Linked DNA regions of Homo sapiens. The protein of the gene in region 5 interacts with the protein of the main gene of each other region in a pairwise test. Each region holds a gene or a part of one and is shown on either strand. Other genes may lie near its edges. The genes, in order: ARL2BP, TMEM37, FAM171B, GNG7, MPP3, IDUA and CRABP1.

The links.
Region 1: the proteins of MPP3 (region 5) and ARL2BP interact in a two-hybrid assay, tested with the Homo sapiens proteins (one large-scale study listed by BioGRID and IntAct).
Region 2: the proteins of MPP3 (region 5) and TMEM37 interact in a two-hybrid assay, tested with the Homo sapiens proteins (one large-scale study listed by BioGRID and IntAct).
Region 3: the proteins of MPP3 (region 5) and FAM171B interact in a two-hybrid assay, tested with the Homo sapiens proteins (one large-scale study listed by BioGRID and IntAct).
Region 4: the proteins of MPP3 (region 5) and GNG7 interact in a two-hybrid assay, tested with the Homo sapiens proteins (one large-scale study listed by BioGRID and IntAct).
Region 6: the proteins of MPP3 (region 5) and IDUA interact in a two-hybrid assay, tested with the Homo sapiens proteins (one large-scale study listed by IntAct).
Region 7: the proteins of MPP3 (region 5) and CRABP1 interact in a two-hybrid assay, tested with the Homo sapiens proteins (one large-scale study listed by IntAct).

What each region holds. Positions count from the first base shown.
Region 1 is NC_000016.10:57,243,887-57,248,058, reverse strand, and holds the start of ARL2BP (ADP-ribosylation factor-like protein 2-binding protein), read right to left. Parts: upstream 2,801-4,172; 5' UTR 2,692-2,800; coding exon 2,654-2,691; intron 2,267-2,653; exon of another isoform or gene 2,248-2,266; intron 2,245-2,247; exon of another isoform or gene 1,980-2,244; coding exon 1,918-1,979; exon of another isoform or gene 1-1,917. UniProt on the Homo sapiens protein: Together with ARL2, plays a role in the nuclear translocation, retention and transcriptional activity of STAT3. May play a role as an effector of ARL2.
Region 2 is NC_000002.12:119,430,554-119,434,653, reverse strand, and holds the start of TMEM37 (voltage-dependent calcium channel gamma-like subunit), read right to left. Parts: upstream 2,801-4,100; 5' UTR 2,751-2,800; coding exon 2,730-2,750; intron 2,582-2,729; exon of another isoform or gene 2,404-2,581; intron 1-2,403. UniProt on the Homo sapiens protein: Thought to stabilize the calcium channel in an inactivated (closed) state. Modulates calcium current when coexpressed with CACNA1G.
Region 3 is NC_000002.12:186,742,560-186,746,059, reverse strand, and holds part of FAM171B (protein FAM171B precursor), read right to left. Parts: intron 2,578-3,500; coding exon 2,485-2,577; intron 1-2,484.
Region 4 is NC_000019.10:2,517,695-2,521,194, reverse strand, and holds part of GNG7 (guanine nucleotide-binding protein G(I)/G(S)/G(O) subunit gamma-7), read left to right. Parts: intron 1-469; 5' UTR 470-506; coding exon 507-587; intron 588-3,500. UniProt on the Homo sapiens protein: Guanine nucleotide-binding proteins (G proteins) are involved as a modulator or transducer in various transmembrane signaling systems.
Region 5 is NC_000017.11:43,805,647-43,809,146, forward strand, and holds part of MPP3 (MAGUK p55 subfamily member 3), read right to left. Parts: intron 3,433-3,500; coding exon 3,310-3,432; intron 1-3,309. UniProt on the Homo sapiens protein: Participates in cell spreading through the phosphoinositide-3-kinase (PI3K) pathway by connecting CADM1 to DLG1 and the regulatory subunit of phosphoinositide-3-kinase (PI3K). Stabilizes HTR2C at the plasma membrane and prevents its desensitization.
Region 6 is NC_000004.12:985,829-989,843, reverse strand, and holds the start of IDUA (alpha-L-iduronidase isoform a precursor), read right to left. Parts: upstream 2,801-4,015; 5' UTR 2,760-2,800; coding exon 2,602-2,759; exon of another isoform or gene 2,036-2,601; coding exon 1,895-2,035; exon of another isoform or gene 1,012-1,894; coding exon of another isoform or gene 1-1,011. Other genes in the region: SLC26A1 (sulfate anion transporter 1), read left to right, coding at 1-1,011.
Region 7 is NC_000015.10:78,339,081-78,343,152, forward strand, and holds the start of CRABP1 (cellular retinoic acid-binding protein 1), read left to right. Parts: upstream 1-1,272; 5' UTR 1,273-1,348; coding exon 1,349-1,418; intron 1,419-1,962; coding exon 1,963-2,141; intron 2,142-4,072. UniProt on the Homo sapiens protein: Cytosolic CRABPs may regulate the access of retinoic acid to the nuclear retinoic acid receptors.

The DNA.
Region 1 (4,172 bases), on a different chromosome or scaffold from region 5:
TACAGGTGTGAGCCACCGCACCCAGCCCTGTTTTCTTTTTAAATTGTGGTGAGATATACAATTTTTTTTTATCATTTTAATGTTTAAGCACACAGCTCAGTGGCTTTAAGTATGTTTACATTGTTGTGCAATGATCACCACCATCCTTCAGTCCATTTTAACCATATCCACACAGGGTGGCTTGGGAACTCCCTGACATTACTTTTCTGAAAAGGAATGAATTGGTTCTCTCTTATTTTGATATAACTTCCACAGCAGTTGTGGAAACAGTGTAGTGATTAAAATTATGGGGTCTGAAAGAGGCTAGCCCGTCTGGGTTCGAATCGCATCTCAGCTACTTACTAATTGTGTGACCTTGGGTAAGTTACTTAATTTCTCTAACCCCCATATAAACACATTTATCTGGAAAATAAGAATGGTTTATGGTAGTTATCATATAGGATTGGAAGTGGAATTTAGATGAGAATTCATGTAAATAGATTAGTTCATAGTGAACACTTAATAAATGATAGGGAATAGGGAATTTTTTTTTTTTAATTGAGACAGGGTTCTCCCTATGGTGCCTAGGCTGGTCTCGAACTCCTAGACTCAAGCAATCCACCTGCGCTGGCCTCCCAAAGTGTTGGGGTTATAGGTGTGAGCCACCGTACCCATCCCGGAATAAGGAATTTTAACAACTGAATAGATTATTTCTAAAAATAAAAGGAAAGTTTCAGAAAGGACCCAGACTTTGGGATAAATACCGTAGGCTCACAGAAGGCTCATTTTCCCATAGCATATAGGGTATAATAGGCAAGAGAACTGAATGGATTCTTCAGTATTCCCCAGAAATCCCCAAGTCCACATGGGAAACGAGCTTAATGATGAAACATCTATATTCAGGAGTTAAGGGCATGAACCTTTATACCTGAAGGTATAAAAACTTGGTCAGTAATTTTCATTCTAAATGGATTAAGCCATACAGCCAATAACACCAAATAACAGTGTTCTTTTCTCAATTCTCATAAAACTTAAAGTCAACAGAATTTTCTCAAATGTAAGTTTTCCCCTCCTACATACTTGTCTTAAACCTCTGGGGACTGTTACTGCTTCTCTGTTACTTAGCAGGTTTCATGGATGCCCAAATACATCCACAAGTAGGAACTCAAAACCTAGGAAAATACAGAACCAGCTGAAGCTTAATACCTTGTTTTCTTTATGGCCATGTGTGCTTATGGTTATGGTTTTATGTGTTTATTTTCATTTTTATTTTTTCCAGACGGAGTCTCGCTCTGTCGCCCAGGCTGGAGTGAAGTGGCACGATCTCGGATCACTGCAAGCTCCACCTCCCAGGTTCACGCCATTTTCCTGCCTCAGCCTCCTGAGTAGCTGGGACTACAGGCGCCCGCTACCACGCCCGGCTAATTTTTTTTGTATTTTTAGTAGAGACAGGGTTTCACCGTGTTAGCCAGGATGGTCTTGATCTCCTGACCTCGTGATCCGCCCACCTCGGCCTCCCAAAGTGCTGGGATTACAGGCGTTAGCCACCGCACCTGGCCTGGTTTTATGTGTTTTATGGCATGAAAATGTTAAAACTCAAAACTATCTAAAATTGAAATTGCTCTTACCCTACATAAGAAATAGAGTAGATCATTATTTCCTATAGTTTTGCGAAGAACGCCACACTGCTGGTGCCCTATTAGCCTGAGTCAGTCCCTTCCAGCCTCTGAATCTATGCTTATTAGATGTTTTCAGGAGTACTGGGCTGTTTGTTTCTAAGACAAACTGCAGTAAGCCTTTACTTAAGTATTACATTGTGCTACATTAAAAATTGCAGGCAGCTTGATGTTTTCTCTTTTTAAAATTAACTCTCCAAATTGATTTCAATGTCCTTAAAGAAACAAGCAAGTCCTTAAAAACAGTATCTTAAAAGCTTACCCATGATAATGTCCTCTAAATATCCAACCACAGCATCAAATTCTGCATCAGAGGCGGAGGAGCTGAAAAACATGCCTGGATTAGGTGCTATTTCAAATAATGCATTAAAAAAATGTTTTTAGTATGGACGTTTTCAAACATGCACAAGAGAAAAAAGAGTAGCAAAACGAACTTCCCATCACCCATCTTCAACGATTAAGAATGACTGACTGATCTAGTAAGTCCAAACAGAAGAAAACACACTCGGCACGTTTGTGACATGAACGTTCAATGTCATGACTCCACTTTAATAAAAACTTGTTCTCCAGGCTCTTAGCTATCACCCCATACCTGTCTGCTTGTGAGCATGAACCCGGCACGGGCGAAACACCTGCCGGGGGGGGTCATTTGGTCAGGAGTCCGGGAGGCGGGGGCCAGGGAGGGGTGGAGGGGCCTCGGGCGCTCAACCCCTCCAGGCTTTGCTGACAGCTGAGGGTTGGCGGCTGGGGATTGTGATGGAGGCGCTGATCAACGGTGACACCCGCCTCGCACTCCTGTCCTGCGGGGCCTGAAACCTGCAGCCTTAGTACTCTACAAAAGGAAGGCCTGGAGCTGGGACGGCGCCTTGGCGGCCCCCACCCTGCCCGGCCCGGCCCGGCCCGGCCCCTAAGGACACCTGTTTTATAGGGTCAGGCCCCGGGGCGAACGCCCGCTGCCTCCGGCCCCAAGTCGCCTGCGCCCTGGAGGAGCTACTCACAAAGACAGCGCAAAGCTCTCTCCTTCTAAGGCGTCCATCGCAGTCGCCCCGAGTAGGCTCCAACCCCGCCCGCGGCCCAACTCGCATGCAGGGCGCGGCCGCCCGGCGGGGTTAAGGCCTCTCAGCCAAGGCCGCGGCCAGCTCACTGCCAGGTCGGGTCAGCGCCTGCGCGCCAGGTCCGGCCTTGGATACCCTCTGCCGCCACGCGTCGGTCCGGCCTCTACGCCCGCCTGGCCCTCTGCGCGCGCCGCCGACGCCGCAGGTCCGGGCCTCGGTGACTGCCGGAGGGGCGCGGCGCCCCGCCTCCTGTCACCATGGCCACCGCAACCCCTTCCACCGCCTCACGGCCGGCCGGCATCCAATCACAGGCGAGCGTTACCGATGCCGGGGCGGGGCAAGACAGGGAGAGGAAGTCCCGGAAGGGAGTGCGGAGGGATGCGGCGCTTCGGCGAGCACCCGTTGTGTGGGAACTCCGTCTCAAGTCGCCCCCATTGTACGGATGAAGGAATCGAAGCCACGAGCCAGAATTTCCTCACTCGCAACTCGAGAATAAATTGCGCCTCCCTGAGTGTGGAGGATTAAATAAGTAGTTTAAGGCGTGTTTAAAGAGCGCTTGTAAGTTGCCAAGTCGCTGGAGAGCCAGTCCCTTATCCCTTGAACCAGGTGATGCTGACGTCTGATTTCAAGACAGTTCCTACCCCTCGTGGAAGGAAAGCCCCATCGCAAGAAGTCGATGTCCTGTAATTTACGTTATAATCTTCGCATCATAAAGATTACTCGGCAGTAATTGGTTTCTTGACTAATTATACAAGATGAGAATTGAAGAACTATTTTGAGCCACGCAATCAGGAATCAGATACCTTTCAGGAAAAGGCCTCTTCAAAACTGCCAAACTTTGAAAAAGGATTCGTTTGAGCTGATTTCTCTTGATTGGACAACTAAGCATTGTGTCTCTTTAGTTGCATGATACCTTATGGCCAAAGTGTGGTATATGACTAGAGGAACTAGAGGGGTTTAAGGTATGAACTGAGGGTCAGGTGGCCAGTCAGAATGGGTTAGCAGACATTTTTTATTTTTTTGAGACGGAGTCTTGCTCTGTCGCCCAGGCTGGAGGGCAGTGGCACGATCTCGGCTGGCTACAACTTCCGCCTCCCAGGTTCAAGCGATTCTCGTGCCTCAGCCTCCCGAGTAGCTAGGATTACAAGTACGTGCCACTATGCCCGGCTATTTTTGAATTTTTAGTAGAGACAGGGTTTCACCATGTTGGCCAGGCTGGTCTCGAACTCCTGACCTCAGATGATCCACCTACCTTGGCCTCCAAAAGGGCTAGGATTACAGGTGTGAGCCACCACAACCGGCCTAGCAGACATCTTTGAATGGACTTAAAATAGATATCCGTGGGATCTGAAACAAAGATGGTTACAAAGACACAGTCGGGTGTGACAGCTGTGACCAAGGTGACATAAATTATTACTAATTTATTTATTTATTGAGATGGAGTTTCGCTCTTACTGCCCGG
Region 2 (4,100 bases), on a different chromosome or scaffold from region 5:
CTAAGAGTATGGGCTGTGGTTCTCAAACTGTGTCCCCATGCTCCTGGTGGGGCTTCCAGTGCTGAAGCCGGGTGGGCAGGGAAGCTGAGCAGGCTGGCTCTGCATCCCCTTCCTCACTTCAACTGAGCCCTGTACCTGCTTGGGACATTGGGGGTCCAGGAGTCTGTATTGCATTTTATTACAAAAAAAAAAAAAATCTACCGGTAAGAAAGAAACCAAAGGAAACTTTGAAAACCTGTGTCTACTCCACAAACCATTAGAGGTGTTTGTCCTTGGGCAGTTTCTTAACTTCCTGAGCCCTTGTTTCCTCATCTAGAAAATGAAGTTAATGACACTTGCAGGAAAGTCGTAGCCATGAAGGCACCTGGCAAGGTTACAAGGTCCCTAGAGAATGATAAATGGTCCTAAAAAGGAGGAGCACCACAGGCAGAGAACAAATCACAGGACCCAGAAACCTTTTAACCCGAGACAGCATGCTGGCTGGAAAACAGGCACGTCCTGTCCCTTCTCCAGCCCTACCTGTCCTAGGCAGACTGGACTTTAATCTCCAGGCCCTTAGATGTCACGTCAGGATCAGAAAGTGGAGACAGCTGACCTCATCTAGTTTCCTCCCGCTCCTGCCCCAAAGTAGGGCTTCATTTAAACTCTCTGGCCACCACTGAAACTCCCAGGAATCAAATGAGATCCTGTATATAAAGATGCATGGTACACGGGCCGCTCCCAACTCATGGTAGCTATTAATATTAATAACAATAATAACACATATAGAGTCTTCATTCCTAACCACCCGGCATCTCCACCAGCTTTCAGTGATGCAGGGCCTGAAACGGCTACTGGAGGGCAGCTGGACAAGTGTGCAGTGGAAAAGAAGGGAGCGGGGAGGTCAAGTCCTGCCCCTGACCTAGAGGACCCCTGCAGGGTACCTTTAGGCAATCACTTAAATCTCTCTGGAGCTTAACTGCTCTGCTAAAAATGTAAGCATTTTCCTTTTTCATCTGTAACCTTGCATGATTTCTAGTGACCTATAGAATAGGGTCACTTGACACTACTGGGCTACTGAGTCCAATGTCATGGTCTTCCTCCTATAACCCAGGGCCTCATGTGTTCCCCTTAACCAAAGCACCCCCAGGTAGACAAATTAAGCTCCTCCCAACTCATTCCGCACATCCCCAACATGTCTCCCATATTTGCTCCCCCTCATCACCCACTCTGCCCCTACCCAGGTGAGGCCATCACCATCGTCAACATCCTGGAAGTTCACAGCCTCCTGATGAGCCGGCCTGCCTCTGCTCCTCTCAGCTGCAGCCTGGCCCACCGCTGCCTGCATGACCCAGAACTTGCTTCCTACCTGTGTTTGCCCCCTGGCAAGTCATGGTTGTGGGGATGAAGAGTTATCATCCCGAAGCGGCCGGAGCACCCGCCCTTCACCTGGAGCCTGTGGCCTCCCCAGCTGAGCTCCCACCTTGCTACCAGGCTTCCTCCTCTTCCCCGTCTGGCAACTTTTGCACCTCTTAATTTAGCATTCGCTCCCCCATGCCCTGTTTCCAAGTCTCTCTCCCTACATGGGCTGTAAGCTCCTAGAGGGGAGGGACCGCACCTGGTCTGTCCCACCATGCTGCCTGGCCGGGATTCCAGACATCCCCCAGAACAAAGGGGAGGAATTCCCTGCGCCCCATGCCCGGCTTCGCCCAGGTGCCTAGGTCCTGGCTATAGAAGCGGTTTTGGGGGTGTCCTGTGGGTGGGGTTTCTCCCGTTAGGTAAAGGCAGGAGGAGCCAGTGGGATTTGGAGCCAGAAAGCCCTGGGTTTGAATCTTGATTCTGTTCCTTGGCCAGCCACGGAGGGCACCTTACTTCTGAGTCTCGGTTACCTCATCTATACAATGGGCAGAACGGTGTCTACTAGGTCAGTGTTGTGGCTGAGCGTTTGTACACGAAGTCAACGGGCCTCTCTAATCCTGGAGACAGTCCAGCGGATAGACTCTGCAGCGGGCGAGTTGCGCGGAAAGGAAGTTCGCCCGCTGGGCAGCGGTACCGCCACCCACTGACTTCCCTTTGGGGAGCAGCAGGCCCGAGGGAGCGGGTAGGAATGTGTAGGTTCTTAGCCAACATAAACATCGTGCACTACGCTAAGGAGAAGCCAAATCTTCGGAGACACGGGCTTCTTCCCTCGCCAGAGCCTTTCCCTGAGGTGTCCGCGCGACTCAGCAAGTCCACCCCCAGCCCAGCACCCCAAACGCAGCTTTGGGGAGGGAGACGGTCTTCCTAACCTCCACCCCCAGAAAGGTCTAACTTCCCAAGAGACGCATCCTCTGTTACATAAGCCTCACTTTGCAAGTCGATTCTGTCCCTCCACCCCAGACGCGCCTCATTTCTCACAAAGGGGGACCCTTATGGTAAACTGACCAGTAAGTCACTGGTGACACCAAAGAGAAGAAAAATCTTTCCAAATGAAGTTTGGGAGCCTCGGGTGCTTGCAAGGCCGCGAGCAGAAGCAGCCGGAGTCCGCGCCTCGGGAGCAGCTATGTGAGGCAGGCAGGCCCCCCGAGGTTGCTCCCCGCCCAGCCTCCTCCGGACCCAGGTTTGCAACAGGGGGCGGGCACGGGGGGCGCTCGCACCCCCAGCCCGACGCCGGCGCTCGCGGTGGGTACGCCCCTCCCTCCGTCCTCCCACCCCCAACCTCCCACGGCGGGGCAGCACCCCGGGTCAGCGCCCCGCCAGGCGCCGGCTACCTGCACGCCGACGGCAGTCATGCTGCGCCCGGCGGCCGCGCTGCAGCCTCGATCGCTCCAGCTGCTCCGCTGTGGCCGCCGGCGCCAGCCCGGGACTTCTCCGCAGGGGCGGGGCGGCTGCTGGAGGCGGGCGGGGCGGGAGGGGGCGTTCAAAGCTCGGCGATTAACCCCGGGCGGGCTCCGCCAACCCCGCCGCCCTCCGCGGCTCGGATTACGCTGAGTCAGCGAGGGCGGCCGGAGGAGCCCCTGGGGAGCCGCGGGGAGGACCCGGCACTTGGGGGGAGGGATCCCTCGGGTCCCAGGGGAAAGGATCGGGAAGTCACTCCGACGCTCCCGAACCTCCGAGGACAGCTTCGCCTGGGGCGCAGATTCCTCGAGGGCTGGGACGGCGACGAGGGCCTGAGGGTTCGATTCCTGTTCCAGCTTGCTGAGTCCAGCCTCTGGGAACGCGGCAGGGTCCGAAGGGAGGAGGCAGGCGCAGAGGCTCTGCTGCCCTCACTCTGCGGTGTGACCTTGGGCTGCTTGTTTAGCGTCTCGGAGCCTCGGTTAGTAAGGGAAATAATGAATGTGAAAGGTGGGGCTCTTGCCGGGCCCTCGCTGAGTGTGAACGGAGTGGAACTTTTTGGGGCAATCCTACTTGCGTCCCTAAAAGGGGATGTAAAACCCTGTTTCCTCCTGAACTCCTCAGGGACTATTAAAAATGCAAATATGCCAAACAAATGTGGTTATTTTTTCTCCACCTCGATGGGAACTGAGGTCTCTCTTTTTTTTTTTCTGGACGTTGTCTAGCGCTTGTGGCCCAGGCTGGAGTGCAATGACGCGATCACGGCTCACTGCAACCTTCGCCTCCTGGGTTCAAACCCGTTCAAGCGATTCTCCTGCCTCAGCCTCCCGAGTAGCTGGGATTACAAGCGCGCCCCATCAAGCCCTGCTAATTTTTGTATTTTTTAGCAGAGACGGGGGTTTCACCATTTTGGTCAGGCTGGTCTCGAACTCCTGACCTCAGGTGATCCACCGATCTCGGCCTTCCAAAGTGCTAGGATTACAGGCATGAGCCACCGCATCCGGCCGGATCTGAGTTCTTAAAGAGGCAGCACCTAAAAGCTTTTACCGCCAAAAAGGGTGGAGGTGGGAGGAGTGTCCAAGGGCCACAAATTCCAACAGAAAGGCTTCCCTCCCCCCATCCTCAAATGTGGTGGTAAAACAAGGCCCCTCACTAAATGGCACACATTAAATTGTCTGGTTCACTCAGGCAGGCAGCTCCTGGTGACTTTACCCAAAGACAAAGCAACTGCACTCATCTGTTTTCCCCTTTAGAGCCATGTGAGAAAGAGGGGTAGTTACAATTGTCTGTATATCTTCCACTTAGAT
Region 3 (3,500 bases), on a different chromosome or scaffold from region 5:
ATCAATTAAATTATTAGAATAGAAAAGACATCAGTTTTTAAAGAGCTACATGACAATAAATGATAAATGAAACAATGTAAGACTTCTCAGTTTATAGTTTTTGTGTGTGTGAAGCTAGAAAAATAATACCTGGAAAACAGTTAAGAAAAGTAACATAATTATATGCTGTTTGGTTGTTGAGGATACAATCTAAAGCCTTCTGATCACTCACAGGTACTACCTATGACTTGCTCTTTTAAAATACGTGGCTTAATTATTTTGAAGACCACATTTCTTACAACTGAACACATGCACACTAAACAAAATGTCTAGCTGAGCTTCTGTAAGGTTTTGTACATTCCTAAATTTTCTAGTTTCTCCTTTTGCCATAAATACATAAACACACAGGCTTAATTTCCACTGTACAAACCTAATGAAACATGTTATGGAAGTTCAGCAGTAAGGATATGTATTTTTTACAGAAAGATTTAACATCATTATGAAACATTCATACTTTCCTGCCTGGCCTTACAAATGGGTCACCTTTTAGGAAAATGAGACAGTAAAAGGAAGTGATCTGAGAATTCAAGAGGACTCACAGTGTTCTCACGGAAACCTGCCAAGGCATGGCCAGTACTTTCCAGACAAATGAGTGCTTACCACTGCTTGGTACAGTGGCAAAGGATTGGTACGGGACATGGTCACACAGATCCATTTCATGTATTCCAGCAGAAACTATGATTGTTAATGGGGTTTGAAGATGCCAGTGAGGGGCAGAGATGCATCAAAACAAACACTGAAGAGGGACTGTGAAGAAGCTAATTTCATTAAGGCCCCAATAGCATTAAACAGAGCCTCTCTGTATACTTGTAATTCTTATTTACTTTCCATTCTTTCACACACAGCTCCACATCCACCATTCTGCCATACACAGCAAAAATCACTAGCTCAAAATTCTGGCAAGGCCAGTCATGGCAGCTCCCAGCACTTTGGGAGGCTGAGATGGGCGGATCGCTTGAGGTCAGGAGTTTGAGACCAGCCTGGCCAACATGGTGAAACCCCATCTCTACGAAAAATAAGAAATTAGCCAGGCGTGGTGGTACACGCCTGTGGTCTCAGCTACTTGGGAGGCTGAGGTGGAAGGATCACTTGAGTCCAGGAGGTAGAAGTTGCAGTGAGCCGAGATTGCACCACTGCACTCCAACCTGGGTGACAGAGCCAGACACTGTCTCAAAAAAAAAAAAAAAAAATGCTGGTCAGGCACGGTGGCTCATGCCTGTAATCCTAGCACTTTGGGAGGCTGAGGCGAGTGGATCACCAGAGGTCAGGAGTTCAAGACCACCCTGACCAATATGGAGAAACCCCATCTCTACTAAAAATACAAAACTAGCTGGGTGTGGTGGCACATGCCTTTAATCCCAGCTACTTGGGAGGCTGAGGCAAGAAAATCACTTGAACCCGGGAGGCAGAGGTTGCAGTGAGCTGAGATTGTGCCATTGTACTCCAGCCTGGGCAACAAGAGCGAAACTCTGTCTCAAAGATAAAAAAAATCTGGCAAATATCTTGGTATTTCAAATGTCTTGGTATTTCATAAGTAAGAGATTCTACAGCCTCACTCAGTAAATTGCTTCAAGATTCATCAAGCCCTAGTTTATTTTTTTCCCAAATAATAGTAAATTTTCTGGTTGAATATTTTAGGAATAGATAAGGCAGCATCTAAAAATGAAAAGAACTTTCACAGAGAGTTCTTTTTACCATGACGCTCTTACTGGACTCCACCTTGAGGGCTTTCTCACTTTATCAGTCATTCCTGTTATACTTTAGACCTAAATATGAATTTACCAATACAAAACAAACAAGCAAATTGTTGTCATTTATAGAGGTTTCCTAAAATATGCAATAAAAGAGTCACAGAATTCTGAGGTTTCTAAGGCGTGCGGGGAGTTAGGATGAAACAATCATCTTCATGGTTGGTAAAGCAGAATTGGAGGACACAGTTTGAATCAGTACCCAAAACATGATTTCTGCACTCTTCTCCTTGGGATACACAAGTGAGGCAAATCACGTCTACAGAGCAGATACTTAACTACCAAGTCTTAGGCATCTCCCAAAAAGCGACAAATTTAATGCTGGAGGCAGGAAGGAGGCAATCTGTAAATTAGCCCCAAAGGCCTGAGCAATATGTGTCCTGCCCTTTCCTCAATTTCTCCCACCATGGAAGCCCCAGTAAGAAATGTGATTTGGAAAGAAGAACAGAAGTTCTCTACAGTGTGCCTGTTTGAGGGGCTAAAATAGTAAAGGAAAAAATGACTCCTGCTATACAAAAAAGCCCACACCATTCATTTGACAGTAAAATATCAGTTCAGATCAACTTATAGTCAGTGCTAATCATACTGATCAATTTAGATTTTTCTCAAGTTATAATTCACACTGATTCTTAGTGAAGAAGTACAGTTATACGACAATAACTTTAAGTGTTTACTTAGTAAGAAGTATGGTACTTACCAGCTAATTTTCCAGTAATTAAAACAGTGTCTTCAAATAGCCATATATTTGCTTGGCTTTGCGGGAACAGTGAAAGTGTAACTGATGAATATACTGTGAAATATAGCACAATTAGAATATTTTACTTAATGTGAGGGGAAAAAAACTAGGACAAATATAGTTCTGTAACAGCAAGTCTCAAAAAGTGTGTTGTGGGGGGGAACAAATGCTTGATGGGAAGAGCAATTCAAAACAAAGGAAGAATGAATGTAAAATATGATGGAGGAAAAAAGGTCACAATAAAGTGAGAAGAAAACATTGGTTATCACTATTTATTTTACTAATCTTTTCTATTTGATGGTAGTAGTCTATACCAAGGTGATGAATGATGTTCTGTAACCCCAGATATAAATGATCAAGTTAAATGCTTGAATAACTCCCTGATATATTTTCTCTAATTTTTACTTATTAAGATTTAAAAATTTTTTTTCTTGGCTCCATGATTCAAGCTTCTCTAGATATAAACTATATCCACTTTTCACTTTTACCTTCCCACATAAGAGCACAATGCTCTTCTGCAAACAGTGTGGTTTGCCAAAAGGATCCTGAGTTGGCAGAGAAGGAAACAATTTAATGCACAAAATGATTCAAAGGCAACCTTTAGTAGTAATGCAGGATGGAGATGAACCTGCCTACAAGCATAGGCAGCTGAACTACCTGTTGGGATGAGTTAAATGCAGATTACCTGAAAGATATTATTTCAAGATTGGAGCAAGAAGCTGGGACAAAAGACCATTTTATAAGCAAGATCAAATCAAACTTATCAATCCTTCAAAAGAAAAATCAGTTTTGAGGAGTTCTCAATCCTCCAAAAGAAAAATCAGTTTTGAGGAGCTCCCAAAGCACGAGTTCTCGTTTGATATCTTTCCTCTATGCTGTGTATTTAAAATTAATAGAAATAGCATGGCATCCTCAAATCTCTTAAGAGAAAACACAGTTGCATGGAAATACTTTTATTATTTTGAGATATTTCAAAG
Region 4 (3,500 bases), on a different chromosome or scaffold from region 5:
TCCCGGGTTCACGTCATTCTCCTGCCTCAGCCTCCAGAGTAGCTGGGACTATAGGCACCCACCACCATGCCTGGCTAATTTTTGTATTTTTTTTTTTTTTTTTAGTAACGATGAGGTTTCACCGTGTTAGCCAGGATGGTCTCGATCTCCTGACCTCATGATCCACCTGCCTCAGCCTCCCAAAGTGCTGGGATTACAGGCGTGAGCCACCACGCCCAGCCTGCCTTCGCCCTTTCATTCTCTCGTTCTGCAAACTCCCACAGAGGATTGTGACGGCTGACCGCGTGCCAGGCTCTATGCTGAGAGTTAAACGAGTGCCAGCTCTTTGTACACGGAGGCCCCTGGTCCCCACCCAGAGGCAAAGTGGCCGTGCCTAGAGTCGGGAAGGTTGAGCCAAGGCCGGGCGCCCCTGCTGCCACCCAGAGGCCTGACCTGAACTTTGACCCACACCCCTCTGCTTCCCCCACAGCTCTCTGAACAACGGGGCCCAGAGCTGATGGCAGACAATGTCAGCCACTAACAACATAGCCCAGGCCCGGAAGCTGGTGGAACAGCTACGCATAGAAGCCGGGATTGAGCGCATCAAGGTGAGCCCAGCGGGCATCAGGAAGAGGAGGGGAGAGACCCTTGGGGGCCCCGCAAATGATGAACAGGAGGCTCGGCAGGAGGGCAGAGGCTTGCACCCCAACTGTGTCTCTTGCTGTGTGACCTTGAGGCCCTCCCTTAACCTCTCTGAGCCTCCATTTCCTCGGCAGAAAGAGGCAGCTGATCTAACACCTATCTCCTGCCTTCGTGCAGCAATGTAACGTGCTTTGTAAACACACTGGGGCCCCGTGGAGACGGTCATCGTGACAGAGCGCTTTGTCGTCCTCATCTGCATTGATCTGTCCAGCTCCTTGGCAATGACAGATGCAAATTAAACTGAGAGACACAGTCCCAGGCGGGAGGAGACTGCATGTCGTATCTACTTTTCACTTCTGTGTTGTTTGAAGGATTTGTTTGTTTTGTTTGTTTGAGACGGAGTCTTGCTCTGTCACCCAGGCTGGAGTGCAGTGGCGCGATCTCGGCTCACTGCAACCTCTGCCTCCCGGGTTCAAGCAATTCTTCTGCCTCAACCTCCCAAATAGCTGGGATTACAGGCATGCACCACCATGCCTGGCTAATTTTTTGTATTTTTAGTAGAGACGGCGTTTCGCCATGTTGCCCAGGCTGGTCTTGAACTCCTAACTTCAGGTGATCCGCCTGCCTCGGCCTCCCAAAGTCCTGGGATTCCAGGCGTGAGCCACCATGCCTGGCCCGTTTGAAGTTTTTTACAAGGATCACACTTGAGGCTGCGCCTTGTCGAGATTTATTTTAAGGCAAGCTCTGAAATCTGCAGTGTAGGCCAGCAGGCTGGAGACCCAGGGAAGAGTTGGTGCTGCAGCTGGAACCCCAAGGCCACCTGGAGGCAGAGTTCCCTCCTCCTGGAAGGACCCCAGGCTTTTTCTCTTAAGCCCTTCAACTGATTAGATGAGGCCCATCTGCATTACAGACGGTCACCTGCTGTGCTTGAAGTCTACGGATTTAAATGTGAATCACATCAAAAAAAAAAAAAAAATTTTGCATGTGAGGCACAGTGGCTCACAGCTGTAATCCCAGCACATTGGGAGGCCGAGGCAGGAGGATCACTTGAGGTCAGGCGTTCAATTCCAGCCTGGGCAACAACATAGCAAGACCCCATCTCTACAAAATAAAAAACAGGCTGAGCGCGGTGACTCACACTTATAATTCCAGCACTTTGGGAAGCTGAGGTGGGCAGATCACCTGAGGTCAGGGGTTCGAGACCAGCCTGGCCAACATGGTGAAACCCCGTCTCTCCTAAAAATACAAAAAAAAGATTACCCGGGTATGGTGGTGCATGCCTGTAATCCCAGCTATTTGGGAGGCTGAGGCAGGAGAATCACTTGAACCTGGGAGGTGGAGGTTGCAGTGAGCCGAGATCGCACCATTGCACTCCAGCCTGGGGAACAGAGCGAGACTCTATCTCAAAAAAAAAAAAAAAAAAAAAAGAAACAAGAAAAAAACAACCTTCACAGCAACATCTAAAAAAACATTTAACTGGCCAGGCACGGTGACTCACGCCTGGAATCGCAGCACTTTGGGAGGCTGAGGTGGGCGGATCACAAGGTCAGGAGTTCGAGACCAGCCTGGCCAATATGGTGAAACCCCATCTCTACTAAAATTACAAAAAAATTAGCCAGGCGTGGTGGCAGGCTCCTATAGTCCCAGCTACTTGGGAGACTGAGTCAGGAGAATAGCTTGAACCCGAGAGGCAGAGGTTGCAGTGAGCTGAGATTGCGCCACTGCCCTCCAACCCCAAGCGACAGGGTGAGACTCCATCTCAGAAAAAAAACAAAAACAAAAAAACATTTAACCAAACCCTGGGGCACCATGGCCCGCCCTAGTGCACCCATAAAATCAGCCATCACCCCACGTATCCACTCAGAACTCAGCTCTCCAGCACCTGTCACCAGCTTGTCATTATTGGCCACGGGAATTTATTAGGAAGGGGTGACCGGCCCTTGCTTTGCTCCCAGCGGGGAGGCGGACAGAGTCGTCCCTGCTGGCCAGGTGGCACAGGTGGTTCTGATCGGCCGGTGAGTCTCCCTCCAGCGCAGCTCTGAGCCCTCCCAGACCCCATCACGCTGCTGCTGGCCGGGATCCAACCAGTAGGGGAGGGGTCTGCCTCCCACGAGGTGTCTGAATGTTCCAGCAATCTGACTGCTGAGGACAGACCTGAGCATTCAAAGCATTCCTTCGGGCTGAAAAGAGAGAAAGCCCTGGTTGAAGTGGTTTTCCTTTTACGAGTGGGTGCCAGCCCCCAGCCCGGGCGGAGGGCGGTGACTCATCCTGCCCTGTTTGATGTTGAGGAGGGGCCCCCACCGCCCCTTTGAATGTCGGGCCTCGGGGGGAGCCAGGATTTGACCCGTCCCCACTCCCAGTCCCGCCTGAGGTTTTACATCCCCAGCTCCAACGCGGCGACCAGAACCACAGAACCTCAACGGCGACGATCTTGGGGCTCACCAGCCCAGCGCAGTGGGCATGGGGGGTGGTGCCAAGGTGCCACGTGCTGGAGCCACAATGCCAGCTATTTTCGGGGTCTGGAGGCTATTTCTGTCGTCCAGGAGGGCCGCTTCCCAAATAGAAGTCTAGAAAGCAGGCCAGGTCCGAGTCATCACAGGCCGCAGCCGGCGGGCTCACTCTGTGGGCATGAGCGTCCCCCGGCTGCCCAGCTGGGCAAGACCCCAAAGCTGTCCCACAGGCTCCTGGCCGTTTGAAGGGCCCAGGTCCCAGGTATCCTTGGGGTCCAAAGGAGGACAGAGGATCTGGGATGCAGAGGTACTGGCCAGGCGAGGCGGCTCATGCCTGTAACCCCAGCACTTTCAGAGGTCTAGGCGGGAGGGTCGCCTGAGCCTAGGAGTTCGAGACCAGCCTGAGCAACATAGTGAGACCTCATCTGT
Region 5 (3,500 bases):
GAACTTTAAAAACATTATATTAAGTGAAAAAAGCCAGATACAAAAGGTCTTACATTGCATGAATCCATTTATATGAAATGTTTAGAATAGACAAATTTATAGTGACAGTAGATTAGCAGTTGCCTGTGGCTAGGAAGGGGCTGGAGGAAAACAGATAATGGGAAATTCTAATGGGCTCAAGGTTTCTTTTTGAAGTGATGAAAATACTCTTAAATTGACTGTGGTAGTTGCAACAACTCTGTGAATACATCATTGAATTGTATGCTTTAAATGTGTGAATTGTACAGTATGTAAATTTTATCTCAGTAAAGCTGTTAACTCCCCCTCCAAAAAACACACAGAAAACAAAACAAAATTTAGTCATGAGCCCACTATTCAGGGAGAATTGCCTTTAGCGTTTTAGTGTATTTTGTGTGTAACACAAAATTAGAATCCTGATTTTTTATTTTGATTTATTTTTTCTTGTATTTAGCTATGTCATCAAATATTCCTCCAACACATGGCTTTTATTTATTTATTTAATTAATTTATTTTTTTGAGACAGAGTCTTGCTCTGTCGCCCAGGCTGAAGTACAGTGGTGCAATCTCAGCTCACTGAAAACTCTGCCTCCCAGGTTCAAGTGATTTTCCTGCCTCAGCCTCCCGAGTAGCTGGGATTACAGATGCCTGCCACCACGCCCAGCTAATTTTTGTATTTTTAGTAGAGACGGGGTTTCACCATGTTGGCCAGGCTGATCTCGAACTCCTGACCTCTGATGATCCACCCACCTCAGCCTCCCAAAGTGCTGGGATTACAGGCGTGAGCCACCACTCCCGGCCCCAACATATGGCTTTTAACTGGCTATAATACTTCAATACATCCTGTAAGTGTCACATAATGGAGTATATTGAACTGAGTCCTGACAGTGAACATTATTTAGGTTGTCTCTGATTTTTTTGTTATATGATGGGCATACTGTATGTTTCTTTTTTTTGTTTTTGAGATGGAGTTTTGCTCTTGCTGCCCAGGCTATAGTGCGATGGCGCAATCTCGGCTCATTGCAACCTCTGCCTCCAAGTTCAAGCAATTCTCCTGCCTCAGCCTCCCAAATAGCTGGGATTACAGGCGCGTGCCACCACACCCAGCTAATTTTTTGTATTTAGTAGAGATGGGGTTTCACCATGTTGGTCAGGTTGGTCTTGAACTCCTGACCTCAGGTGATCCACCCGCCTTGGCCCTCCAAAGTGTTGGGATTACAGGTGTGAGCCACTGCACCCAGCCAATATTGTATGTTTCTAAATGATTCTAGACTTAAGTTGATATTCCCCTATTCCCCTTAGAGTTTCTTGTGTCTTTTTTTTTTTAGATGGAGTCTTGCTCTGTCACCCAGGCTAGAGTGCAGTGGCGTGATTTTGGCTCACTGCAGGCTCTGCCTCCTGGGTTCAAGTGTTTCTCCTGTCTCAGCCTCCCGAGTAGCTGGGATTACAGGCATGCACCACCACACCTGGCTAATTTTTGTATTTTTAGTATGAGACGGGGTTTCACCATGTTGGCCTGGCTGGTCTCGAATTCCTGACGTCAGGTGATCTGCCTGCCTCAGCCTCCCAAAGTGCTGGGATTATAGGCGTGAGCCACCATGCCAGCCTCCCCCTTAGAGTTTCTAAAGGAGAAAATTTTTCTTTTTTCTACATTTTTTTTTTTTTGAGACAGAGTCTCACTGTGTCATGCAGGCTGGAATGCAGTGGCATGGTCATGGCTCACTGCAGCCTTGACCTATTAGGCTCAAGTGATCCTCCCACTCCCACCTCAGTCTCCCGAGTAGCTAGGACTATAGGTTTGTGCCACCACACCTGGCTAATTTTTGTAATTTTTTTGTAGAGATGGGGTTTCACCAAGTTGCCCAGGCTGGTCTTGAATTCCTGGGCTCAAGCAATCTGCCCGCCTCAGCCTCCCAAAGTGCTGAGACACAGGTGTGAGCCACCGTACCTGGCCAAGGAGAGAATTTCTAATGTTCCTTGTATGTATGCCATTCTAAATAATTTACTGAGACCAGATACGGTGGCTCACACCTGTAATCCCAACACTTTGGGAAGCTGAGGCAGGAGGATCATTTGAGGCCAGGAGTTTGAGACCGGCCTGGCCAACACAGAGACACCCTGTCTCTATAAAAAAATTTTTTTTAATTGGCTGGGCATTGATGGTACATGCCTGTAGTCTCAGCTACCTAGGAAGCTGAGGAAGGAAGACTGCTTGAGCCCAGGAGTTCAAGGCTGCAGTGAGCCATGATTGTACCACTGCACTCCAGTCTGGGCAATACAGCAAGATCCTGTCCCCAAAAAAATAAAAGGCTGGGCACAGTGGCTTACACCTGTAATCCCAGCACTTTGGGAGGCCAAGGTGGGAGAATCACTTGAGCCCAGGAGTTCAAGACCAGCCTGGACAACATAGTGAGTCCCTGTCTTTAAAAAAATAATAATAAAATAAAAAGTGTATCAACGTGGACAGTTAAAACTGAGAATTAGTATGAACTAGGATTGCATCAAAATCTTGACTCAGCGGGAGCTTCCTGACCAAGGGGAAGGATCCGAGAAGGCCTCCTTCAGATGAAACCAGCTATATAGGACAGCAAGTAAAGTCTATTCTGGGACTGAGTTGCTTCTGACTGCCCCCACCACCCACAACAACTTCCAACTCATTCTGCTAACTGACCCTGTTAAGAACCAAAAAAGATGAGTCACCAAGCCCACACCTCCTGGAAGAACTCTGTCAAATATTTAGGTTTTGGGTGAGGGTCTCGCCATCCTGACATAGACTGGGCTGAACAAAGAATCTATGACAGTGAAACAGAAGTTCATTTAGGACACATCAGACGATCTCATCCACTAGTTTTAGAAATCCCTTCATTCACTGATGATTCAAACTGGTTTGATAGCAGTGATAATGACCTTGTTAGTTGGGGTTTCAATTTAAAATACTTGGATTTGGCCTAGGAGTATAGTTTGATGAGTACAGTCTGTCACACTCAGATGAGGTCCCTGACAGGTGTCACATTTTGCGGGAGGGCGCTTATGTGAGGGAGTGGAGGGGCGTGAGCCCAGGCAAAGCCACCTGCCTGGTTTGGGAGGCACTTCCAGCTGTTCACCTTGAGCCTTCTGGCCATGTAATCATCTTCTCTTAAGTTTTTCAATAGGCAAAATGGAAAGACAATCACATGTAGAAGGTGTGTCCCGCATCCCTCTTCAGCTGCAAGCACCCTTATGCAGCTAGAAGCGTTCCTGTAACAGCCTCCCTTAGGCCTTCAGAAAAGAAACAATCAACTTTAAACTTACAAATGGGGCTGCTGTGTCCTCACAAGCTGGGGACATAGGTGGCGTTTTTCTTTTTTCCTGAATTGCAGGCTTTACAAATATAATATAGGGTTTAAATTCTGAGGTCCTCAGTTGTTTCAGTGCCTGAGAAAGAAAGTTCAGGAATATTATATACTTTTGAAGTGTTTTGTTGTGAAATAGACTTTTGAAAG
Region 6 (4,015 bases), on a different chromosome or scaffold from region 5:
AGTCACGGCTACTCTGTGCGTGCCAACCAGGAGCTGCTGGCTGTGGGCTGCTGCAACGTGCTACCCGCCTTCCTCCACTGCTTCGCCACCAGCGCCGCCCTGGCCAAGAGCCTGGTGAAGACAGCCACTGGCTGCCGGACACAGCTGTCCAGCGTGGTCAGCGCCACCGTGGTGCTGCTGGTGCTGCTGGCGCTGGCACCGCTGTTCCACGACCTACAGCGAAGCGTGCTGGCCTGCGTCATCGTGGTCAGCCTGCGGGGGGCCCTGCGCAAGGTGTGGGACCTCCCGCGGCTGTGGCGGATGAGCCCGGCTGACGCGCTGGTCTGGGCAGGCACCGCGGCCACCTGTATGCTGGTCAGCACAGAGGCCGGGCTGCTGGCTGGCGTCATCCTCTCGCTGCTCAGCCTGGCCGGCCGCACCCAACGCCCACGCACCGCCCTGCTGGCCCGCATCGGGGACACGGCCTTCTACGAGGATGCCACAGAGTTCGAGGGCCTCGTCCCTGAGCCCGGCGTGCGGGTGTTCCGCTTTGGGGGGCCGCTGTACTATGCCAACAAGGACTTCTTCCTGCAGTCACTCTACAGCCTCACGGGGCTGGACGCAGGGTGCATGGCTGCCAGGAGGAAGGAGGGGGGCTCAGAGACGGGGGTCGGTGAGGGAGGCCCTGCCCAGGGCGAGGACCTGGGCCCGGTTAGCACCAGGGCTGCGCTGGTGCCCGCAGCGGCCGGCTTCCACACAGTGGTCATCGACTGCGCCCCGCTGCTGTTCCTAGACGCAGCCGGTGTGAGCACGCTGCAGGACCTGCGCCGAGACTACGGGGCCCTGGGCATCAGCCTGCTGCTAGCCTGCTGCAGCCCGCCTGTGAGAGACATTCTGAGCAGAGGAGGCTTCCTCGGGGAGGGCCCCGGGGACACGGCTGAGGAGGAGCAGCTGTTCCTCAGTGTGCACGATGCCGTGCAGACAGCACGAGCCCGCCACAGGGAGCTGGAGGCCACCGATGCCCATCTGTAGCAGGGCCAGGCCTGCCCAGCAGCCTCTGCTCCCTCCTGGGGACCCACAGCAGACGTCTGCAAGCCACTGCTGAGACCCTTCCCAGGGAGGAGCCACCCAAGAGCTGCACTCTTGTGCCACAGCTGCCCTGGGGAAACCGGGGAACCCCAACTGGGAAAGGAGGCCCTCTGATCACACGCAGGACCCAAACACTCAGAAATCAAGAACCTCTGCCTCCGAGACAGGCTGGCCCACAGTGCTGGCTGGGCCCCAATGCACCGTCCCTCAGCTCAGGAGGGATGGGCCTGACCTGACGCTCAGGGTTGACATCTTATTTGAACAAGGGTCCCCCGCCATCATGCAGCCTCCAAGGTGCCAAGAGGACTCCCTATGCCCAGGCCTGCCCGGTGCCCACCCTGCTGGTAGGAGCCAGCGGCTCTGGCCAAGTGCACGAGGGTCTCTGTGTTTCCAGAAGGCCCCACACACCCAAGTGCCCCTCACACCTCGTGCCTCCCCCTCACAGGGTGGCCACCTGCACCAGCGTCAGGGCCCAGGGTGCTGTGACCGATGAGACCTCAGCTCAGCCCTCAGGTGCAGTGGCCCTACCCAGCCTGGCCAGCAGACACACACAGGGATGCTCACGGGTGCACCAGGAGCCAGGTGCGGCGCAGCCAACCCTGAGCCTGCAGGGAGACCTGCAGGAAGCCCACCGTGCCCCATGCAGGGGCTCCCTCCAGCACACAGCCCTCACCCCAGCACAGCCAGCAAGGACACGCTCTCCCCAACAGGGTGCTTCGGCGGGAGGTGGGGGAACAAGGGGTCTTCCGAGCAGCCCCCAGCCCTCCCCTCCCATCTGTGCCTCTGTAAGGGGCTCTGGGACGCCCAGACCCTGCCCGCCGCCCACCTGGTGGTGACAAGCTCCAGCAGCCAGTGGGTCCGGACCTGCTTGATGCCGCGGTGAGGGACGGCGCCCACATAGGCGAGGTTGAGCTGCTGGTCCCAGCTGAGGACGTACTGGTCAGCCTGGCTGTGTGGCAGCGGGGGGCTGGGGACAACAAAGGGGCGGCTCAGTCCCGAGCCTCAGCATGGCTGGCAGCGCGGCTGACACACACGTTCAAGCCCAGGACTGCCCGGGCGCAGGATCCAGGCGCTGCCCGTGCGTTCAGTGACTAATAAAATGACCCTTAGGGCCAGGAATGTGGGGAGGTCCCATCTTCATGGGGAACGGCAGCAGCAGTAAGACGAGGGGCCAACGCCAGCCCTGGCCCTGGCCCTGCCAGGAAGGCGGGTACCTCAGCTCTAGGTGGAAGGAATGGGACAGGCAGGCCAGGTCCCGCTGCAGGGCCGTCCACTCCCAGGGGAGACTCCTGGTTTACCTCAAAGAGCAGGATCCCGGGCATCGGCCTGGGCTGCAGGGGGCGGCCCAGGCTCACGCCCCGGCGCCCACTCAGGTGGAGGACCCACCCACAAACACGGCGGGGGGCGGGCCCGGGAGAGCCAGGGCCCCAGAGGAGGGAGCTCCGGTCTCTGAAGCTCTCACAGTGCGCAGTCAGGGGGCGCCCGAGCTCTCCCCGTGCGGCCAGGGGGTCCCGGAGGCCGCGGAGCGCTCACCAGAAGCCTGTGCTCCTCCAGAAGCGCCGCAGGGGCCACAGCGCGCGGGCCGCGTCCACATGCACCAGGTGCGGGGCCTCGGCCGGGGCCACCGGGGGCGCGGCCAGGAGCGAGGCCAGGAGCGCCAGCAGCGCGGCGCGGGGGCGCAGGGGACGCATGGCCACGCGTGCTCGGGGACTGCGGGGCTTCGGGCTGCACTGCCGGTTCCGCCTCCGGGTCGGAGTCTGGGCGCGCACCCCATGTGACCGCCGCCGCGGGGCGGGGCCTTGGTGAGGGGGCGATGGCCGGGTGGGAGGGGTTGGGTGGCCTCGGGGAGCCTCGGGGAGCCGGGAGCACGGCAGGGCTTGGAGCCCCGCTTCCTTGCGGGCCTCAGGGGCTGCTCTGAGGACCGATGACTCGGAAAGCGCTCAGAAGAACGCTTCGCCCGTTGGTGCTATGTGAGTTGAGCCATTACTGTCTTGTTTTTCTCTGTTTTTGTGTGTTTTTGAGACAGAGTCTTGCTTTGTCGCCCAGGCTGAGGTGCAGTGGCGCGATCTCAGCTCACTGCAACCTCCATCTCCGGGGCTTCAGCGATTTTCTCACCCCAGCCTCCTGAGTAAAGCGTGCGCTTTAGCAGGAAGGAGAATTACCCCAGAAGAGCACACTGGGCCCTCCTTACACTTGGCTTCAGATCCATGGATTCAACCAAGCAGACTGAAAATATTGTTTTAAAGCCAAAGCAATACGAAATAATACATATTTTAAAACAATACAGTATAACAGCTATTTACAGAGCATTTACATTGTTTTAGGGACTATAAGTAATCTTGATTTAAACTACACAGTAGGATGTGCGTAGGTAATGTGCAAATACTGTGCCATTTTATATCAAGTACTTGAGCACCTGCAAATTTTGGTATCTGGGAGGGTCCTGGAACCAATACCCCGAGGATACCATGGGACAACTGTAGTACATGTGTAGTCCATGTATGCATGTGTGAATCCAAGCAAACATTGTATAAAAATAATAATGGAAAGAACAGGCTTGGTGCGGTGGCTCACACCTGCAATCCCAGCACTTTGGAATTGCAGGCCAACACGGGAGGATCACTTGAGGCCTGGAGTTTGAAATCGGCCTGGGAGATGTACCAAGACCCCATCTGTACAAAAAAAAAATTTAGCCAGATGCGATGGTATATGCCTGTGAGGCCCAGCTACCCACGAAATTGAGGTGGGAGATTGCTTGAGCTTAGGAGTTCAAGGCTGAGACGGGCCATGATCACACCACTACATTCCAGCCTGGTTGACAAAATGAGACCCCATCTCTAAAAAAAGAAAAGAAAAAAAGAACAGTCTACTAACAAAACGAAAATACTGGACAATAATCCTCTCTAAGTTGGGAGAAGGATAATTAGAGTTACAGTGTTCTGGGTCT
Region 7 (4,072 bases), on a different chromosome or scaffold from region 5:
GTTATCGAGCCCCACCTGGCTAAGCCTTAGGAAGGGAGGACAAGTGGATAAACGATCACTGCCCTCCAGGAGTTCAGTTTATAGCAGAGCGAAGACTTGAACAAGAGCAGGACCGGACAAGAATCCTGTCAATTCAGAGAAAAATAATCACAGTTTATTAGGAAACTGAATTTCACAAAAGAGAGAGCATAAAGATGGGCTTTCGTGAATGGGCAAGATTTGATTAACCCGATGAGGAAAGGGGCATTCAAGGAAGAAGCCATGGCATGGGCAAAAACTTAGAGATAATAAAATGCATGGCACGTTCTAGAATCCTGAATTGTACAGTTTGGCTGAGGTGTGCAGATGGTAAAATAGTGGGAAAAAGCTGGAAGGAAAATGTACAGAGAAGAGCTACAAGGGTAATAGTGAAGTGTTTGTACTCCCTTAGTGGAAACACCGAGGGGACTTTAGGTCGTGATGTTTAGGTTATTTGGGAGCAAAGGGAGAAGACTTCCTCCCCTTGGCCCTCACAGCCTGCCCGAAGAGTGCAAAGCCTCACGCTTTTGCAAAACAGGCCGCACCTAGCCCAGATTCTGGAGCTGATTCAGTCCATGCCTCTCGACCCACAGTTTGTCCTGAGCCCTGACAAAGGTCTGGCCCCCTCCTGCACTCGGAACGCGGAGGACCCGCAGCTCGTGGATTCGCGCCTCAGTGCCCAAGCTGGTGTTGATGGGGGTTGCGGTTTCCTGCCACTCACTCCCCATGGGTCCTGTGGGGGGCGTGGGGATGCGGGGAGAGGGTTTCAGAATAGGATCCCGGACTGGGAGGGAAGGGACACCATCTGGGCACACCCAGTAGGTACGACCGGAGGTGAAAAAAGAGTGGGTCCCATCCCCTGATGGCCCCGCTCGCTATCCACTTTAAGTTTATGTTATGGATATTTTCAAACATATTCAAAAGTAGAGAGAAAAGTAGAATCATAACCCAAGTCCACACCGCCCAGCTTCAACAGTTATCCCCTCCAAGCCCATCTTGTTTCAGCTAACCCTCTCCCACCACCCATTTTAAAGCGGGATGTGGGTGTCCTGAGGGAGGTGGAGGCTCCCCAGTTGGAGAGCGGGTGCCCGCACCTCTGGAGGCTGAGGCACAACTGGGCTGGGAGTTGAGCGCATACCGAGTAGGGGCTGCGGGGGAGCGGGGGCAGGGCCGGCGGGGCGGGGCCAGAAGCCCGGCGGGGTTGGGGGCGCTCTCCTAGTGACTCAAGGCGCGCAGCGCTGGGCGCAAAGCGCCAGTCTCCGCCTTGCGAGCTCAGAGTGTGCCCGCTGCGCCGCCGCTGTCCGTACCTGCCGCCGCCGCCACCGCCACCATGCCCAACTTCGCCGGCACCTGGAAGATGCGCAGCAGCGAGAATTTCGACGAGCTGCTCAAGGCACTGGGTAAGCTGGTGCAGAGGGCGCGCCCCGACGGGGAGATGCGGCCCGGAGGTGCCCTGGTCCCGGAAGTGCCCCGGTCCTGGAGGGGGTGGAAGTTGGGGAGCCCAGGCAGGAGGGAGTCCCCGGGGCAATAGATCGCCTTGTCTCCCAGGCGCACCGGGTCTCGGAGAAGCTGGTAGAGATCCCGGAACCCACGCGTTCAGCGAACGTTTGCTGAATGTTTGGCGCCCTCCTCGATGGTGCGGACTTTATCTCGTGCTAGATCATAGCGAGGAGAGATTACTGGAGAGCAAGGAGGATCAGGGACTTAAATTTGGAGACTCAAATTTGGGACCAGGCTCTGCCACGAATTCACTGTGCAACTCGAGGAAAGTCACTTACCCTCTCTGTGCCTCAGTCTCTCATCTCGAAAACAAGGGCGAGGGCAGGGAAACGAGTGGATCAATTTTAAGGCCCCTTTCTAAAGTTAGGGTATGACCAGTGCCCGACCGGTCCCGAGACTGGCGGCGAGGCCCCGTGACCCAAGCCTGTGGTGCACCCTGCGCAGGTGTGAACGCCATGCTGAGGAAAGTGGCCGTAGCGGCTGCGTCCAAGCCGCACGTGGAGATCCGCCAGGACGGGGATCAGTTCTACATCAAGACATCCACCACGGTGCGCACCACTGAGATCAACTTCAAGGTCGGAGAAGGCTTTGAGGAGGAGACCGTGGACGGACGCAAGTGCAGGGTGAGGCCCCAGAGCCACTACAGCGTCCCCGTGTCCCCGCTCGGTGCCCATGGCCCACTGCTGCTGGAGGAACCTGTGTCTCCCTTTGCAGCCTGTGGCGCGCCTTCCTTGCAGGGTGTGTACACTGGCTGTTTGCAGAGGGGGTTTGTGCATCCTAGTTGCCCCTGGCTCAAGACAAAGTATTACCTTCATTCCATCTCAACCCCATCCCTACGCTGCCTCCCGGGGTGCTAACAGCCGCGCTTAAAGAGCGGGCTCTGGGTTGCGCCGCGTTCCCAGCAGTGGCTTTTGCAGCGGTTTGCAGCGCCAAGCGCAGGCGGCGCAGGAGGAGGAGGAGGTTGCAGGAGCCGCCAGGTTCTCTGTCGCAGGTGAAGCCGCAGCTCTTGCATTCCTTTCCCGCCGTATCCCCCGCGCCCGCCCGGGTCCCTGGGCCGCCTGGGTACGCTCTGGATACAGTTTTAGCAGTCCCGATGGCCCCGTCACCTCTCCCTTCCCGCCTTCGGCCTGGTTCCTTAAAGGAACGGCGGAGTCTTTCCAAAAGCAAGGCAGGTTCTGGCTGGGAAAATGGACTAGTTGCCCTCTCTTAGTCCTCAAGGGCAAGAGTTTTTTTTTATTTCTCCATGCATCGGCCCAGGGATGAACCGGTGGATTGAAGCAAGGGGTTGTACATTCGTTTTTTGCATGGGCAAAAATTGCATTTGGTTAACCAGATGGAAAAATAATCACCGGTGCTACCACTTATTTAAAAAGTGACAGAATGTCTCCCTCCCCTTCTCCAATTTTTTTTTTTTAAAGAAAAAAGTCGTAACATTCCAGAGAGTGGGAAATTGTTTCTTTCACCTTTCCTGAGCAGTGCCTGGTCTGATCTCGGAATGGGACTCTCTGAGCACCGGGCTTGGAAGGACAAAGAAACAAAGCCCCCCAGAAGCAGGCTGATCTAGGAGGCAATCTTTGGCTCCAGAATTGTCATAGCCTGGAAATGATCTCCACGCTTGGAGGGGGTGGGATCTGAAGCCTAAACTGCACTGCAGAAACAAAGAGCAGGACAGCATAGAGTGAAGGGCTGGGAGTCTAAGAGAGGAGGCTTGGCAATAGGCAGGGCTCAGTCTGGGGACATCCAATGTTGGCTACTGCCAGGAAGGGTAATTCTGATTTAAAAAAAAAAAATTAAAGGTTCACACAACAGCCGGGAGAGTGGGGCTTTATGCACCCCCCATCCCCCCACACCTTGCCTAATGAATGTGTCCCATGTGTTAGTTAAAAACTGATTATGTGCACATTCAGCTCTGGCCCACCCCCCAGCCCAGCTGTACCACACTTAGCTTTGTGCAGACACTGGGGAAAAACTTCAGGAAATCCCTCCTTTTGCCTCCCACCTCCAAAAGCATGAAGAGCCTTCAGATTGATTTGCTTTTTAAATTTTTTCTAAAGGGATGTAACCGGGAAAGTGGCAGCATTTTAACCCTCAGAGCCAAAGACACCGAGGTTTATCAGTGCAGGGGTGCACTAAATCTGATGAGGAGTGAACAGAAAGGACGTTCCTATCCCAAAATCCATGCAGGGAATCGTGCTCCTGATAGGCTGATGACAGATGTGGTTACAAACTTGGTGTCTTAACTGTTGTCAAATCTTGTGGTTCTGATGTGAAGGTTCTTGCTTTTAAAATCCAAATTATGTTCACCTGAGGTCAGGAGTTCGAGACCAGCCTGGTGAAACCCCATCTGTACTAAATATACCAAAAAAATTAGCTGGGCGTGGTGGCAGGCACCTGTCATCCCAGCTACTCAGGAGGCTGAGACAGGAGAATTGCTTGAACCTGGGAGGTGGAGGTTGTAAGGAGCCAAGATTGTGCCACTGCACTCCAGCCTGGGCAACAGAGCGAGACTCCATCTCAAAAAAAAAATGAATAAAAATAAATAAAATCCAAATTG